2 separate regions of the Homo sapiens genome follow, and region 1 is linked to region 2. A link means that fine-mapping ties the variant in region 2 to the expression of a gene that starts in the linked region. Tissue or cell type: whole blood. Region 2 holds a variant in brackets; the other region holds the start of a gene. All regions are shown on one strand. Distances are from middle to middle.

What was found. PIP is the estimated chance that this variant, and not a neighbour inherited with it, causes the effect.
Region 1: INPPL1 starts here. The variant in region 2 is fine-mapped to the expression of INPPL1 in whole blood (TOPMed, PIP 0.94).

The regions. Positions count from the first base shown.
Region 1 is chr11:72,220,789-72,228,788 of GRCh38, forward strand. It overlaps INPPL1 (inositol polyphosphate phosphatase like 1), which reads left to right and starts at 3,979. Exons shown (of 28, transcript NM_001567.4): 1 at 3,979-4,378; 2 at 7,402-7,465; 3 at 7,560-7,710; 4 at 7,939-8,000. The coding sequence starts at 4,197. FOLR2 (folate receptor beta) reads left to right here. Exons shown (of 5, transcript NM_000803.5): 3 at 82-270; 4 at 388-523; 5 at 682-1,162. The coding sequence ends at 974. RefSeq lists silencers at 2,465-2,694, 2,935-3,334, 3,885-4,244, 4,255-4,464 and an enhancer at 5,870-6,229.
Region 2 is chr11:72,172,269-72,180,526 of GRCh38, forward strand. The region is part of intron 2 of FOLR1-AS1 (FOLR1 antisense RNA 1); the gene reads right to left. It also overlaps the pseudogene FOLR3P1. Among named protein-coding and RNA genes, the nearest start is that of FOLR1, 16 kb to the right of the region's middle. The variant C/T (reference allele first, on the strand shown) is at 3,298.

The DNA.
Region 1 (8,000 bases), 48 kb after region 2:
GAACCAAATGGGGGAGAGACACGAGGTGGCAGGAGGAGGAGGGTATGGGGAGGCACTTAGTCCTGTGTCTTCCCCACCCAGTGCAGTCCCTGGAAGAAGAATGCCTGCTGCACAGCCAGCACCAGCCAGGAGCTGCACAAGGACACCTCCCGCCTGTACAACTTTAACTGGGACCACTGCGGCAAGATGGAGCCCGCCTGCAAGCGCCACTTCATCCAGGACACCTGTCTCTATGAGTGCTCACCCAACCTGGGGCCCTGGATCCAGCAGGTAGGGTGTCTCCCCCCCACCCACCCCAGCAGACTGCCATCCCCCTCAGTCACTTCAAGGCGATGGCTGCCAGCATCCCTGGCTGAGAGGAGCCCTGCCTCCCCACCTCCCACCCAGGTGAATCAGAGCTGGCGCAAAGAACGCTTCCTGGATGTGCCCTTATGCAAAGAGGACTGTCAGCGCTGGTGGGAGGATTGTCACACCTCCCACACGTGCAAGAGCAACTGGCACAGAGGATGGGACTGGACCTCAGGTGAGGGTGATTGAGTTGGGGTTAGGAAAAAGGAGATTGAGGTAGGGTTTGGAAAATCTTCAAGGATTTGGGGTGGGGTGAAGATTTCTGGGGGTGGCCAGAAATGAGCTTTGGGCCCAGGGGCTGAAAGTCTGTGTCCACCATGCCTCTCCCTGCAGGAGTTAACAAGTGCCCAGCTGGGGCTCTCTGCCGCACCTTTGAGTCCTACTTCCCCACTCCAGCTGCCCTTTGTGAAGGCCTCTGGAGTCACTCATACAAGGTCAGCAACTACAGCCGAGGGAGCGGCCGCTGCATCCAGATGTGGTTTGATTCAGCCCAGGGCAACCCCAACGAGGAAGTGGCGAGGTTCTATGCTGCAGCCATGCATGTGAATGCTGGTGAGATGCTTCATGGGACTGGGGGTCTCCTGCTCAGTCTGGCCCTGATGCTGCAACTCTGGCTCCTTGGCTGAGTTCAGTCCTCCCAGACTACCTGCCCTCAGCTTGGATAACCAGGCTGGGCTCAGCTCAGCTCCCACAAATGACAGCCCCTTAAGCATGCTTCTATTAGTCACCTAACCCTCTGTCACCCAGTCTGTTGCTGCTCCATGGTGGGGCCAAGAGTCACTTCTAATAAACAGACTGTTTTCTAATAATTCCATGTCTGTGGAATTGTTTTGGTTGTGAGTTTGTGGGTGGGTGGGAGACAGATTCTACGGCTTCTGGATTCCTTCAAATTAGAGCAACTAGACCTGTGTTTGAATCCCAGCTCTGCTACTTTGTGAAAATGAAACAGTTGCTTCACTGCTCTAAACCTTTGTTTCCTTCTGGATAAAAAGAGGATAATAGTCCTGCCCTCAGGCTTGTGAAATATACAGGAGCTGTTGCCTAGAAAGCCCGTGAGCCCAGTGTCTGCACATTAATAGTCTTCAGGGATCCTGTTGTTCCTGTTGCCCCAAGTGGGAGCCAGGTCCTGAGCTTATTTGTCTTGGTCTCCAAACAGCCTCCTGGTCCTCCAGCCCTTGTGCCTGGCTCTGTGCTCGGCTCTGTAACAGGAAAGCTGGGAATGGGAGTCCAGGAAAGGATTCAGATTGCCAGTGGGATGAAAAAAATTCACAGTGGGATGAAAAAAACGTGATGCACATTGAAGGAGCAGAGTTGGGGCCTGGGACTCTCAGAGGAAAAACAGAGCCAATTGGAGAGGGCAGTGTAGGGGGTTTCTGGAGTGGAATACTCAAGAGCCTGGAACTGGTTCAGCGCTTTGGTGTCCTGGAGGTGTGGCTGGAAGAGTTAGAAACCCTTAAGGGCTTCCCGGGGTCAGGAGCCTCTGGCACCTTTGTCTCCTCCTGGGATTGGCAGATATGCCTATCTTGAGGGGGTTGCTCTGTCTTTGCAAAGCCCTCGGGAGCTGGGCCTAAGTTATCTCTGGGTCTCCCAACACCCCTTTCCCTTTGGATAAGTCTTTGTTTGCACACTCCTACTACAACTGTCCCCAGAGAGGCCCAGGTAAGTCTCTGAGAACACCCTGCAGGTAGGTGGCCCAGCTAGGACTAGAACCCAGGTGTGCAGACTCCCAGTCCAGGTCTCTCCCCCACTACCAAGGATTCCCCTCACATCAGGCTCATCTTTTCTTATACTAAAAGGTGGCTGATGAGAACGGTGGCACAGATTGTAGGATGAGTTATTGGGTTCTGGAGGCACTGTTGGGTGGGTGGGTGGATCTCTTAGTTATTATATTTATCTAGTGTGGAAGGCCCCACAGAGCCCCTTCCACGTCCCAGGCTCTGCTCCAGCTGGGTTAAGTCAATGCATATTTGAAATAGAGGAAGGAGCTCGAGGGACTGACCCGGGCTCCGTCAACAGGTTCAACGTAGCAAAGTGAAAGTTCTCTCCCAGGTTAAAGGGATTCTCCCACGGCGGCCCAGGAGATGGTGGCGGCGGGCGCCCGGCTGGAGGCCTGCGCCTTTAAGGAGCCAGGGGGCGGAGGGGCGGGGCAGGAAGACGACTCCCCGGAGACGCCGCCACCGGCTAGGTCTTTTTTTGGGAGGGGGCGGGCCAGACCCTTTTATGGGCTCCGCCCCCTTTGCGGCTGCCGCGTCCCCCTTCCGCCCTCGGCTGGAGGGGAGGAAGCTAGGGGGGCGTTGCAGCGGACCCCGTCTGGGAGCTCCCCGCTGGGCGTCCGGCCCGCGGAGGCGCGAGTTTGCTGACTCGGAGGGAGCCGCTGGGGCGGGGGCGAGTGCTAATAATACCCGTTCGTTCCGCAGCCGCGCTTTACAGTTTACACAGCTGTCACCTTCGTTTCTCCTTAATTAATAATAAAAATAGCCGCCGTTCGGGAGCGCGGGCTGGGCGCCAGGCCCGGTGCCGAGCGCGGTACGAGCTCGGCCCCCAGAGCCGGCCCTCGCCACAGGATCCCCATTTTCCAGAGCGGGAAGCCGACGCTCAACCCCGCGCCGCGACTTGCCCGAGGTCACCCAGTGGGCCAGCGGCTCCGGGACCGAGGCGCGGGGCGGGGTGAGGCGAGGCGCGGTGCTGCCCCCGGCTCCCCGGGGCGGCGCGGGGCGGGGCGGGCGGCGCGGAGGGCGGGGGCGCGCGCGGATGGCCATCTTAAGTGGCCGCCTGGAGCCCAGGGCCGCTGTCCGGGGAAGGGGGCGCCGGAGCAGCCCGGGAGGTGGGGGTCTGCGTGCGGCGGCCGGGATCCCGGGAGGGAACTTTCTACTAGACGGGCCAGGGATCCTCCTGGCTTCGGACTGCTGAACCCCCTCAAGGCCCGGCCTGCGGGTGTGGGGGGTGGTGCTGGGGAACTTGGCCGAGAGGGGGAAGGGCTCTGCGGGGCTGGGAGGGGCTGCGTGAGAGGCTCGAGAACGTCGCACCTCGTCTGGGCCCCCCGCCAGAGTAAGAATCTTCAGAAGCCTGGTTAGCCAGGGAATCTCCCCGCAGGCTTTGCCGGGGGACGGTTCCCGTGGAGTTGGGGGTTCAGATCTAAGAGGGGGCTGCATTTCGCAGGAGTTGGGGGCCCCGCCCGCTTGGGTGGAGGGAAGAGGATGGGTAGGGGGTGGTCCTGGATCCTTCGCAGGTTTGGGGAACTCGATGCAGCCAAGCTGTAAGGGGGACGAGAGGAAGAGCCATGGAGTGGAATCAGACCTTTATGGGGCTTAGGGGTCATATCATTGGGAGAACTGAGAAGCGCTGAATTCTCCAGGGGGTGCCTGGATCCCGAAGTGTCGGGGCCAGGATGGGGGGACTCGGATTTCGATGGGGATTTGGGGACTGGATCTCCTCGGGTGAATGATGGGGGCAGGATCATTGTGGGGTCTGGGAGGTCCCGGGCCCTTCGGGAAGGTGGGGGCACCGTCCCCGCAGGAGGAGCTGGGGGCAGGGGCGGCCCGGGCTGCGGGCCGAGCGGAGGGGGAGGGGGCGGCAGCCGGCCCTGCGCTCCGCTCCTGCCCCTCCCCCGCCGCCTCTGAACAAACTTTTCTTTCTCTTCAAGTTGAGGCCGGCGCTGCAGGCAGCGGCGGCTGCGCGGTGAACGAGGCGGCCTGCGCGGCGGAGTGCTGAGTCCCGATCCCCGGCTCTGTCCGGCCCACGGATCCTCAAGCCCGGGCCCCGGGCCCGGCCCCAGCCTCAGCCCTGAGCGTCTCGGGGCGGATGGCGCGGGGCGGCGGGGGCGGGCGGTGCTGAGCCCTGCGCGGGCCATGGCCTCGGCCTGCGGGGCGCCGGGCCCGGGGGGCGCCCTGGGCAGCCAGGCCCCCTCCTGGTACCACCGCGACCTGAGCCGGGCGGCCGCGGAGGAGCTGCTGGCCCGGGCGGGCCGCGATGGCAGCTTCCTGGTCCGAGACAGCGAGAGCGTGGCGGGGGCCTTCGCGCTCTGCGTCCTGTGAGTGGGGCGGGGGCTCCTTGCGGGCTGGCGTGGACCGGGAGCGCGGGCACGGCCGGGTGTGGAAAGGGCCCGGGTGAGGGTTTCTGGGGCGGTGGGACGCCAGACCCGCCTCCACCCCCCAGAGTGGGAGCCTTGGCTTTCTCCTGGGTCTGAGGAGGGACGCAGGGGCACTTCCTGCTGTGTGTCTGGGGGCACTTTCAGGAGCCTTGAGGGTAGAGAATATGGGGTTCTGTGGCCCAGTGTGACTGTGATGACGAAAAATTCGGGCATTCCCCGGCAGACCCCTTCAGGCATCCTCCAGGTAGAAGGGAGCAGGGGAGAGGATGTGCATTCCACGTTGTGTGCAGTCCCGTTTGGATAGGGACTGAGTGGTGAGCAGGAGAGGGAGTCGGGGCAGAGGGACTGACGGGGTGTGTGGGGATGCCTGGCAGCTTCCTTAGGGCCCCTTTCGGTGCTTTGGGGTTCTGCCTGGCCGTGTATGGGTGGTGGGGGCGGTGATGGGTGGTGTAGAGAGGAAGGCTTGGGGAAGCAGAGGCTGAGGCTGTATGGGACCTTGCCATTATTTCTGAACCAATGAGTGAGTGTTTGAGCCCTGGCTCTGGGCTTGAGCCCTGGTTACCTGGCTGCCCTAGCCCTGAGCTATGAGTGCTGAGTGAGAGCAGAGCCAGACTTGGTGCTTCTCTGAGTGGGCCAGGTCCTGTGGCTGTGCCTTTCAGCCCAGTGTGGTTGGTAGTGGTGCTGGGGTGAGTTAGCACTCTTGGTTTTGCAGCCTTCTAGCGGCTTTGTACCTCCTGCCCTGCAGTCTGACATTGAGTTGGCTTCTGTGGGCCCAGTGAGTGGGAATCTGTGGGGGCTGCTTTATTTAGATCAGTTATTTAGATCTTTATTTAGATCTTTCTTAGCTCTGTGAACCCCCTCCCAAACTCCTGTCCCACTGTACCTTCCTTACCCCTTTGTTCTCCTGACATCTTTGGTCGGGGCGCACATTAGCCTAGACCAGGGGAGACCTTTTTTTTTTTTTTTTTTTTTGAGAAAGAGTCTCGCTCTGTTGCCCAGGCTGGAGTGCAGTAGTGCAATCTCGGCTCACTGCAACCTCCGCCTCCTGGATTCAAGTGATTCTTCTGCCTCTGCCTCGCCAGTAGCTGGGATTACAGGCGCTCGCCACCAAGCCCAGCTAATTTTTGTATTTTTAGTAGAGATGGGGTTTCACCATATTGGCCAGGCTGGTCTTGAACTCCTGACCTCAAGTGATCCACCTGCCCCGGCCTCTCAAAGTGCTAGGATTACAGGTGGAGCCACCTCGCCCAGCTGGGGAGACATTTTTAATTGTCACAACTGGGATGGTGCTATTGACATCTAGTGGGTAGAAGCCGGGGATACTGCTAAACATTCTACAGTGCACAAGAGAGTCCCCCACAACAAAGAACTGTGCAATCCAAAATGTCAGTGGTATGGAGGTTGAAAAACTCTAGCCTAGGCAATTGACCCAACAAGGAAGGGGCCCTATAAGTCTTAGCTTAGGCCTCAAGTCTGAGGCCCAGTAGGGGGAGACTAAGGAGGGACAGACTAGGCAGATGAATATCCCCAAGTCCTGCTTCCCAGCCCCCTCTGAGGCATACCCCCTAATTAGGCTGGGGAGGGAGGCAGGTGCTGGGTCAGCTGTTGAGTGGGAGGGGGACAGCTGGGGCCTGTGTCTGGGTGAGGAACATTATTGTCCCAGGAGGGGGAGAATCCTGGCCTCATTGCCAAGGGAGGCTGTGAATGGGGTGAGGGGTCTGTCTGTGAGTGGGGGCTTCAGGTTTGCCAGCTGACTCTGGCTCTTCCCCGCATCTCAAGAGCCTGGGGGTAAGGATCAGACGTGGGCGATCAGACGTGGGCAATATCTTAGATTTGCCAAATACACACATACTTGCTTACCTGTATACATTCCGGGTGTTCATGGATAACATGCAAGACACGCCCCTGCCCCAGCAGGCACAGGCAATCTGACCAGCAAGCTAGGATACTGGCCCTGGCTTCTGCCATGGTTTAAAATCCCAACTCCACCTTTTACTTACTCTGTGGCCTTAGGAAAATCACTTTTATTCTTTGAGCCTGTTTCCTCAGCTGGAGAATGGGGATAATAATATCTGTTTAGAAGTGTGAGAATTAAGTAAGATTTATAGGACACTGGGTACCCAGCGTGTCACAGATAGGATTCAGTTAATGGTATGCTATTGTAATAAACACAGATAGTGTTTGTAATAGTCTACAAAGGAACACCTGGTGACAGACACTCACCCAGCATAAGCAGCCAGGAGAGTCACCTAGGGTGACTCCTGGGTGACTCCTTGGGGAAGCATGCCCTGAGGTGCGGAGGCAGAGGATCTTCCATCCCCCGCTGATTGTGCACCTGGCTCAGCTGCCACCTGCTCAACTGCGGCTCCTGTCTGTCAGCACCCCTCTTGCCCCTCCTTGGCTTGGGGCTCCTAGAGGCCCAGGTCTCCCATGGGGGCCCTCTTTGGTGGGAAGGCCTAGGGTGATGCCCCCACACTCCTCGGCACAAGTGCCCTAGACATACCCGACTCCAGCAGAGCCAGAGAGCAGCATAAACACAGGAGGCATACACACGTGTTAGCACGTTGCCCGTGTGTGCAAATGGGCTAACCAGGCTTCTGAAGACTCTTACTCTGGCGGGGAGCCCAGACTGGTACCACAGCCCAGAGGGGCTGTTTAGACAGCTGTGGAGGCCACAAAAGAGCTCCCTGTTGCTTCTCAGGCCCTGCCCTGTGGTGGGTGTGGAGTCTGTGTAGGTCTGGTGGGGAGACGGGGGTGTTCTGGTCATTCCTGCCCAATAGGCAACACCAGGAGGGTGGAAGTGGACCGGCCACATCATTAACCCTGTGCAGCCTGGGCAGGTGGTTTTAGGGAAACCAAGCTGAGGGGGTTGGGGTGCTGAGCTTGCTGGCAGGAGGAAGGGGTGCTTTGGGTCTTAGACCCCAGCCTGGGGGTGACAGATTCTGGCCCTGCCTTGGCATCAGGTATCAGAAGCATGTGCACACGTATCGCATTCTGCCTGATGGAGAAGATTTCTTGGCTGTGCAGGTAGGAGCTTGGGCCCCTGACCCCTGACCTTGATCCAGCCTAGGGCTTGGGGACCTGCTGGCTGACCCTTCCTCCCACCCTTGCTGGCCCACAGACCTCGCAGGGTGTGCCTGTGCGCCGCTTCCAGACCCTGGGTGAGCTCATCGGCCTGTACGCCCAGCCCAACCAGGGCCTTGTGTGCGCCCTGCTTCTTCCTGTAGAGGGTGAGCGAGAGCCGGACCCACCGGATGACCGGGATGCCTCAGGTACTTCCCAGTGTGCAGGTCCCCTCCCTGCCCCTGTCCCTTGGCTCTACCTGCCTCTTCCCATCCCCCCTTCTCAACCCCACCTCTCCTGTAACCCCCTTTCCCTTGGCCATGATGCCGGGGCCCTTTAACCCTCTTTCCATGGAAGTCACTTTACAGCTGCATCGTGCCTCCTACTCCACTGAGTGTGGGAGGCCCAAACGGCTGCCCACTGACCCCTGCCCACAGATGGGGAGGATGAGAAGCCCCCGCTGCCCCCGCGCTCTGGCTCCACCAGCATTTCTGCCCCC
Region 2 (8,258 bases):
GGGAAGGGCTCCCTCTCACCTCTACACGCAGCGCATTTCTTGGCTCAGCTGCCCTGTAGGGGATGCAGGGTGGGGACAGCAGAGATCTGGGCCTGGGAGGGAGACAGTACACAATCACATGGCTGTTGCCCCTCCCTCAGGCCTTGTCTACCTCTGACTGTGGCTCTCTGGCAGGAATAGATGGACATGGCCTGGCAGATGATGCAGCTGCTCCTTCTGGCTTTGGTGACTGCTGCGGGGAGTGCCCAGCCCAGGAGTGCGCGGGCCAGGACAGACCTGCTCAATGTCTGCATGAACGCCAAGTACCACAAGACACAGCCCAGCCCCGAGGACGAGCTGTATGGCCAGGTGAGGATAAAGTCGGGTCTGGGGCAGGGGAGAGAGCTGCCTTTGACAGAGAAAAGTTAGCAGGGTGAAGTCAGCTGTGGAAGGTGATGAAGGCAGAGGATGACTGCTGTGATCCTGGAGGGCCTCCCCTGGGAGGACACCAAATCTACAATAATAAAGGAACCACATACCTAACACCCACTATGAGCCTATGAGCCTTGTGCTTTCACTCATGCCATGTTAGTGAATATGCCCAAAGGGCAGGGTGGGTGCGTGGTAGTCTCTACTTACGCAAATGAGGAAATAGGCCCAGAGAGGGCGCAGGTGCAAGTGGGAAATGAGGAGAGGGACTGTCCATACCTTTCCCAGCCTTAATTGTGTGCCAGCCCACAGAGCTCAATGGCACAGTAGAAGAGGAGCTGGGCCCATCATGGTCATGGTGCAGCCTACATGTACAAACAGTCCAGGTTTCCACCCCCATTAGGTACTGAAGAGACAACGACCAATCCAATATGCTGGGGAGACTTCCCAGGCAAGAGACCATTGGCCTTGACCTGGGAAGATGAGTAAGAGTTTTCTAGGAGGAAAAAGCGGGAAAGGGCAGCCTGGTAGAGGACAGCATGCACACAGGTCAGAGGGTGATGGCACGAGCAATGGCGGGTCCAGTGTGGCCAGAGCCAGCGGTGCCACTGCCCACAAGGAAGGGGAGGGGAGGCCAGGGCCCTCATGCCACAGGTAAGGCCACTGAGGCAGCTCGGGGAGTATGAGCTCCAATTTGAATTCCAAGCTCAGGAGAGTGCCTGTATTTCATTTCTCTGGTCTCCTGGCCTGCTCCCTAGAAGGGTTCACATTCCCAGAGGGTGAGGATGTGCCCAGGGAGAGACTGTGGCATGGACAGGCTCCGAGGGCTAAAGCAAAGAGAGGACAGCCTGGAAGCCCTGTGACATCTGAGTCATTCCCAACATTCCATTTGCTTATTTTAAAATCAGGGTAAAATTTAAAATAAATAAATAAAATAAGTTCTCCATTTTAGCCATTTTTAACTGTACAGGTCAGTGGCATTAAGTATGCTCATGTATGCCGGGTGCAGTGGCTCACGCCTGTAATCCCAGCACTTTGGGAGGCCGAGGTGGGCGGATCACCTGAGGTCAGGAGTTTGAGACCAGCCTGACCAACATGGAGAAACCCTGTCTCTACTAAAAATACAAAAAAAAAAAAAATTAGCCGGGCATGGTGGCCCATGCCTGTAATCCCAGCTACTCGGGAGGCTGAGACGGGAGAATTGCTTGAACCTGGGAGGCAGAGGTTGCAGTGAGCCGAGATCGCGCCATTGCACTCCAGCCTGGGCAACAAGAGCAAAACTCTGTCAAAAAAAAAAAAAAAGTATGCTCATGTGGTTGTGCAACCATCACCACCATCCATCTCCTGACCTCTTTCATTCTCCAAAACTGAAATGGAAACTTTGTGCCCACCACTTCATTTGCTTTTCAGAACCTTCTAAAGCACCTACTCTTTGCCAAGAAATGGTGCAGATGTAGACTTTGAGAGATACAGATGATTATCATTCTCAGGGCCATGAGCTATATGAGAGTGATGATATTTGTTGGGCCACTTCTATAGCCAGGGAGTACTTTTCATTATATTCAGTAACTCTTTCAGAGGCAGAAACCCCTGACCCTGACTGGCAAAACCCATGTCTGCCAAACCCCAAGACCCATGATGTGCAAGGGGTCTTGCAGGAAGACCAAGAGTTGGGACAGCCAAGGAAAAGCAAGTGTGAAGTTGTGCTGGCGGGGAAGCATGTTCTGTGTCGGCCGGCACTGGGCGTGGTGGCCCAGTGGGTAGGTCTGGCTCCACTCCCATGGATTTCCCTATTGTTTCTCCTGGTTGCTCAGACCTGTCACGCCTCTGCCATCACTTGACCCTAGGTGCAAGGGTTCAGCCCAGAAATGTTATGCAATTGACTCATGATTTCTCAGGTTTTCTGCATCCTGGCCTAGAGTGATTTCCAAAGAAAAACCTCCACCATTTCTGCTTGTCTTGCCTGCATTGTATTTACCTTTCTAGGATTGCCTTTTCCACATTTAGTCAAGCCCGGGTTCAGGCCCACGTTCAGGCTACAGCTCCTCTGTTCCCCCACCACTCTCAGGATCTATTTGGAGTCTCCTTGCCTGGACTTCCAGACCCTGGAAAAGCCACACCAGCCCCTTGACCTCCACCCTCCCCCACAACCTGGGCCAGGTTCCTCTCCTTCCTGTCCTGAGTTAAATCTTAACCCTACTATATACCACAGGTGTAGCTTACTGAAACGCTGTAAAAATGGGTTTAAGGATTCATACTGGGTTGTTAAGAGGATAAAGTGCAAAAGCCTCAGGGACTTTGCACCTATGGTTTTCTATGCCTGAGTGTTCTTTATCTTCCCTGTACACACAGCCCATCCACCCATTAAAACTATACCCTCCATGAGGCTAGAGATGTTACTTGCTTTGTTCACTGGGGTGTTCCTAGGACCTATCACAGTGCCTGATGTCTAATAAGCACTCAGTTAATATTGGCTGGATGCAAAATGAATAATATAAATAAGCTGAATAACATGAAATAACTTTTTCAACCATTAAGAGCTGTACAAACAATAATTACTGTCCCAGACAGTGGCTCCCCTCTATTATGCTCCGTTAAAAGCCAATATTGGCCAGGCGTGATGGCTCACATCTGTAATCTTAGCACTTTGGGAAGCTGAGATGAGAGGATTGCTTGAGCCCAGGAGTTTGAGACTAGCCTGGGAACCATAGTGAGACCCCATCTTTTTTTTTTTAATACTTTAAGTTCTAGGGTACATTTGCACAACGTGCAGGTTTGTTACATATGTATACATGTGCCATATTGGTGTGCTGCACCCATTAACTCGTCATTTACATTAGGTATTTCTCCTAATGTTATCCCCCCCTCCCCCAACCCCACGACAGGTCC[C/T]GGTGTGTGATGTTCCCCACTCTGTGTCCAAGTGTCCTCATTGTTCAATTCCCACCTATGAGTGAGAACATGTGGTGTTTGGTTTTCTGTCCTTGCGATAGTTTGCTCAGAATGATGGTTTCCAGCTTCATCCATGTCCCTACAAAGGACATGAACTCATCCTTTTTTATGGCTGCATATATTCCATAGTGTATATGTGCCACATTTTCTTCATCCAGTCTATCACTGATGGACATTTGGGTTGGTTCCAAGTCTTTGCTATTGTGAATAGCGCCGCAATAAACATACATGTGCATATGCCTTTATAGCAGCATGATTTATAATCCTTTGAGTATATACCCAGTAATGAGATGGCTGGGTCAAATGGTGTTTCTAGTTCTGGATCCTTGAGGAATCGCCCCACTGTCTTCCACAATGGTTGAACTAGTTTATAGTCCCACCAACAGTGTAAAAGTGTTCCTATTTCTCCACATCCTCTCCAGCACCTGTTTTTTGCTGACTTTTTAATGATTGCCATTCTGACTGGTGTGAGATGGTATCTCATTGAGGTTTTGATTTGTATTTCTCTGACGGCCAGTGATGATGAGCATTTTTTCATGTGTCTGTTGGCTGCATAAATGTCTTCTTTTGAGAAGTGTCTGTTCATTTCCTTTGCCCACTTTTTGATGGGGTTGTTTGATTTTTTTCTTGTAAATTTGTTTAAGTTCTTTGTAGATTCTGGATATTAGCCCTTTGTCAGATGGGTAGATTGCAAAAATTTTCTCCCATTCTGTAGGTTGCCTGTTCACTCTGATGGTAGTTTCTTTTGCTGTGCAGACGCTCTTTAGTTTAATTAGATCCCATTTGTCTCTACAAAAAGATTTTAAAAATAGCCAGGTGTGGTGGCATGGGCCTGAATCCCAGCTACTCAGAAGGCTGAGGTGGGAGGATTGCTTGAGCACAGGATGTAGAGGCTACAGTGAGCTATAATTGCACCACAGCACTCCAGCATGTGCAACAGAGAGAGACCTGTCTCAAATAAATAAATAAATAAGGGAAAAATGCACCAATATTGTAATTGCCTGTGTTCCCAGGTGGGGACTCCTCAAGGGCCCTCCCTAGGAAGTGTTCCTCTGGATGACCTACCTGGGGCAGAGGAGCCAGAATATGGGGGAGATGGCTGCGGTGGTGAGGGACTTAGTCCTGTGTCTTCCCCACCCAGTGCAGTCCCTAGAAGAAGAATGCCTGCTGCATGACCAACACCAGCCAGGAGCTGCACAAGGACACCTCCCGCCTGTACAACTTTAACTGGGATCACTGTGGTAAGATGGAGCCTGCCTGCAAGCGCCACTTTATCCAGGACACCGGTCTCTATGAGTGCTCACCCAACCTCGGGCCCTGGATCTGGCAGGTATGAGTGCCATTCCCACAAACATGAACCTCATAGCTGGGTGCATTGGCTTATGCCTGTAATCCCAGCACTTTGGGAGGCCAAGGCAGGTGGATTACCTGAGGTCAGGAGTTCGAGACCAGCCTGGCCAACATGATGAAACCCTGTCTCTACTAGAATACAAAAATTAGCCGGGCATGGCGGTGGGAGCCTGTAATCCCAGCTACTCAGGAGGCTGAGGCAGGAGAATCGCTTGAACCTGGGAGGTGGAGGTTGTAGTGAACCGAGATTGTGCCACTGCACTCCAGCCTGAGCAACAGTGCGAGACTTTGTCTCAAAAATAAAACAACAACAACAAAAACAACACAAAACATTAATCTCAGCAGAGGGCACAACCTGCCAGCCACTTGCAGAGAGGGCTTGGTCCAGGAATTTGGGTCTGAGGGTGGTGGACGCCCTGCCCCCTCCCACAGCTCTGGTCTCCTTCAAGGGTAAAGCGGCTGAGATACGTGGCTGACAGGAGTGTTCCGTCTCCTCCCCACTCAGGTCAACCAGAGCTGGCGCAAAGAGCGCATTCTGAACGTGCCCCTGTGCAAAGAGGACTGTGAGCGCTGGTGGGAGGACTGTCGCACCTCCTACACCTGCAAAAGCAACTGGCACAAAGGCTGGAATTGGACCTCAGGTGAGGGACGGAGGAGATGAGGTGAGGAGTGGGAGTGGGGCTTTGGGGTTGGGAGGGGTGTGGTCTGGCCCAGAAGCTAAGGGTCTTACATTCTCCTCCCTCAGGGATTAATGAGTGTCCGGCCTGGGCCCTCTGCCACACCTTTGAGCCCTACTTCCCCACTCCAGCTGCCCTTTGTGAAGGCCTCTGGAGCCATTCCTTCAAGGTCAGCAACTACAACTACAGCTGAGGGAGTGGCCGCTGCATCTAGATGTGGTTTGACTCAGCCCAGGGCAACCCCAGTGAGGAGGTGGCCAAGTTCTATGCTGCGGCCATGAATGCTGGGGCCCCGTCCCATGGGACTGGGGCCGTGGACATTGGTTCCTGATCCAAGAAGGGTCCCCTGGGGTTCTTCCGACAACCTATCCTAATAGACAAATCCACATGTGTCTTGTGTCTTGTAATCTGGGGACAAGTGGGTTGGAGTGACACATTGCTTCATCTTTCCTATTGATAGTCCCCGAATCAGGCTGGAACTGGCTTGACATTCACTGGGAAGTAGGCTGTGGAGGTTGAGCCAGAATCTAGGTATCTATCTATCCCTCAGCCTGGTTCTCCTGAGACCCTCCCGCTCACACAAAGCTCATTACCCCCACACTATACACGGACAAAAGCGCAGGTGGAAGGAAGATGGGCAGAAACAGGAGATGAGTTATTGGGCTTCAGGTGGGGAAGACAGTTTATTTCCTCTTCCCTCACTAGATGTGGGCTGGGAGGAGATACTGTTTGGAGAGGAGGGTCTCAATGATAAACACCTGCCTTGTTTTTATTTGTTTGAGACTGGGGTCTTGCTATGTTGCCCAGGCTAGTCTTGAACTCCTGGGCCCCAGCGATCTTCATTCCTTGGCCTCCCAATGTGCTGGGATTATTGCAGTAGGTCATTGTGCCTGACCTACTTTTTTTTTTTTTTTTTTTTTTTTTGAGACGGAGTCTTGCTCTGTCACCCAGGCTGGAGTGCAGTGGTGTGATCTCGGCTCACTGCAGCCTCTGCCTCCCATGTTCCAGCGATTCTCCTGCCTCAGCCTCCTGGGTAGCTGGGATTACAGGCACACACCACCACGCCTGGCTAAATTTTGTATTTTTAGTAGAGATGGGGTTTCACCATGTTGGCCAGGCTGGTCTCGAACTCCTGACCTCAGGTGATCCACCCACCTTGGCCTCCAAAAGTGCTGGGATTACAGGCATGAGCCACCGAGCCTGGCCTGACCTACTTTTTAATAAATGACAAGTAATGCTGCAATTAACAGTCTTGTACCAGCTGTTACAAGATTGTAACACTGAGCACCTTGAGCTCAGTGGCTCACGACTGCAATCCCAGCACTTTGGGAGGCCAAGGTGGGTGGATCACCTGAGGTCAGGAATGTCAGACCAGCCTAGCCAACATGGTGAAACCCCATCTCTACTAAAATATACAAAAATTAGCCAGGTGTGATGGCACATGCCTGTAATCCCAGCTACTCAGGAGGCTGAGGCAGGAGAATCGCTTGAACACAGGAGGCAGAGGTTGCAGTGAGCTGGGATCATACCACTGCACTCCGGCCTGGGCTACAAGAGTGAAACTCCGTCACAAAACAAACAAACAAAAAATCTTGTACCTAGTGGAATGTTATACTGAATTCCAGAAAGGGTTATTGGGTCAAGAGTATGTATAATTTTGATAGTTACAACTTTATAGAGATTTTATCAATGTGGCTCCTCCACCAGCAAAGCATGAGAGTGCCTGTTTCTCCGCTGGGTGTGTGAGAGCTCACACCTGTGATCCAGCACTTTGAGATTCTGAGGCAGGAGAATCTCTCGACCCCAGGAGCTCAAGATCAGCCTGGGCAACATGGTGAAACCCCATCTCTACAAAAAACTAAAAAAATCAGCTGGGCATGGTGGTGTGTGCCTATAGTCCCAACTACCAGGGAAGCTGAGGTGAGAGAATCACTTGAGCCCTGAGAGGTTGAGGCTACAATGAGCTGTGATTGTGCCACTGCACTCCAGCCTGTGCGACAGAGCGAGACCTTGTCTCAAAAAAAAAAAAAAAAAAACAGAGAGAGAGAGTGCCTGTTTCTCCACAACCTTGTCAACACAGTATGCCATCAAACTTTGGTTTTCTGCTCATCTTACAGGTGGGGAAAAGGGCAGCTCAGTCCAGTTTTCATCTGCCATTGTTCTGAGATCTTTCCATGTTGACCTATTGAGATGTTAAATTACTAGGTAATAATCCATTCTATGTGTACATCACACTGAATTCAGTCACATACTGATGGGCATTGGAAGGAATGGGGTTCTTTTATGATCTTGACATTGCTGAAAGCCACAGGCCAGTTATTTGGTAGAATACTGCTCCATTTGGGTTTGTTTCCTCATGATTCACTGAGGTTACACATTTTGGGCACGAATACCCTACACAGTTATTCCATGCATCGTAACAGGAGGCACGTGGTGAGGGGTTTGCCCATTCCTGGTGAGGTTAACTTTGATCTTTTGGTTGAGATCATGTCTCCCAGGTTTCTCCACTACACTTTCCCCTTTGTAAGTAATAAATATGTTGTAGGGAGAGACTGGGGACTATAGATACTCTATTCATCAGCACACTTCCACCTACATGTTCCACTGTCTGATGGACCTTTTTTAAAAAAGTAAAAACAAAACCGAAATGTGTCTTATTATGTTACAGCTCTTTCACCAATCTTTCAATGCTTTCCAGTGGTATCAACTGTAAAAACTAAACTTCTTCAAATTAGCACAGAAGACCATGCCCCTCCTTTGAGCCCTCAAGCCAAATCTTCCCCACACCACCCCATAAATGAGCTCCAGTCACACTTCTCATGTTGGGGGTCTTTGCTCCAGCAACTCCTCTGCGTGCCTGAAATGTTTTTCATT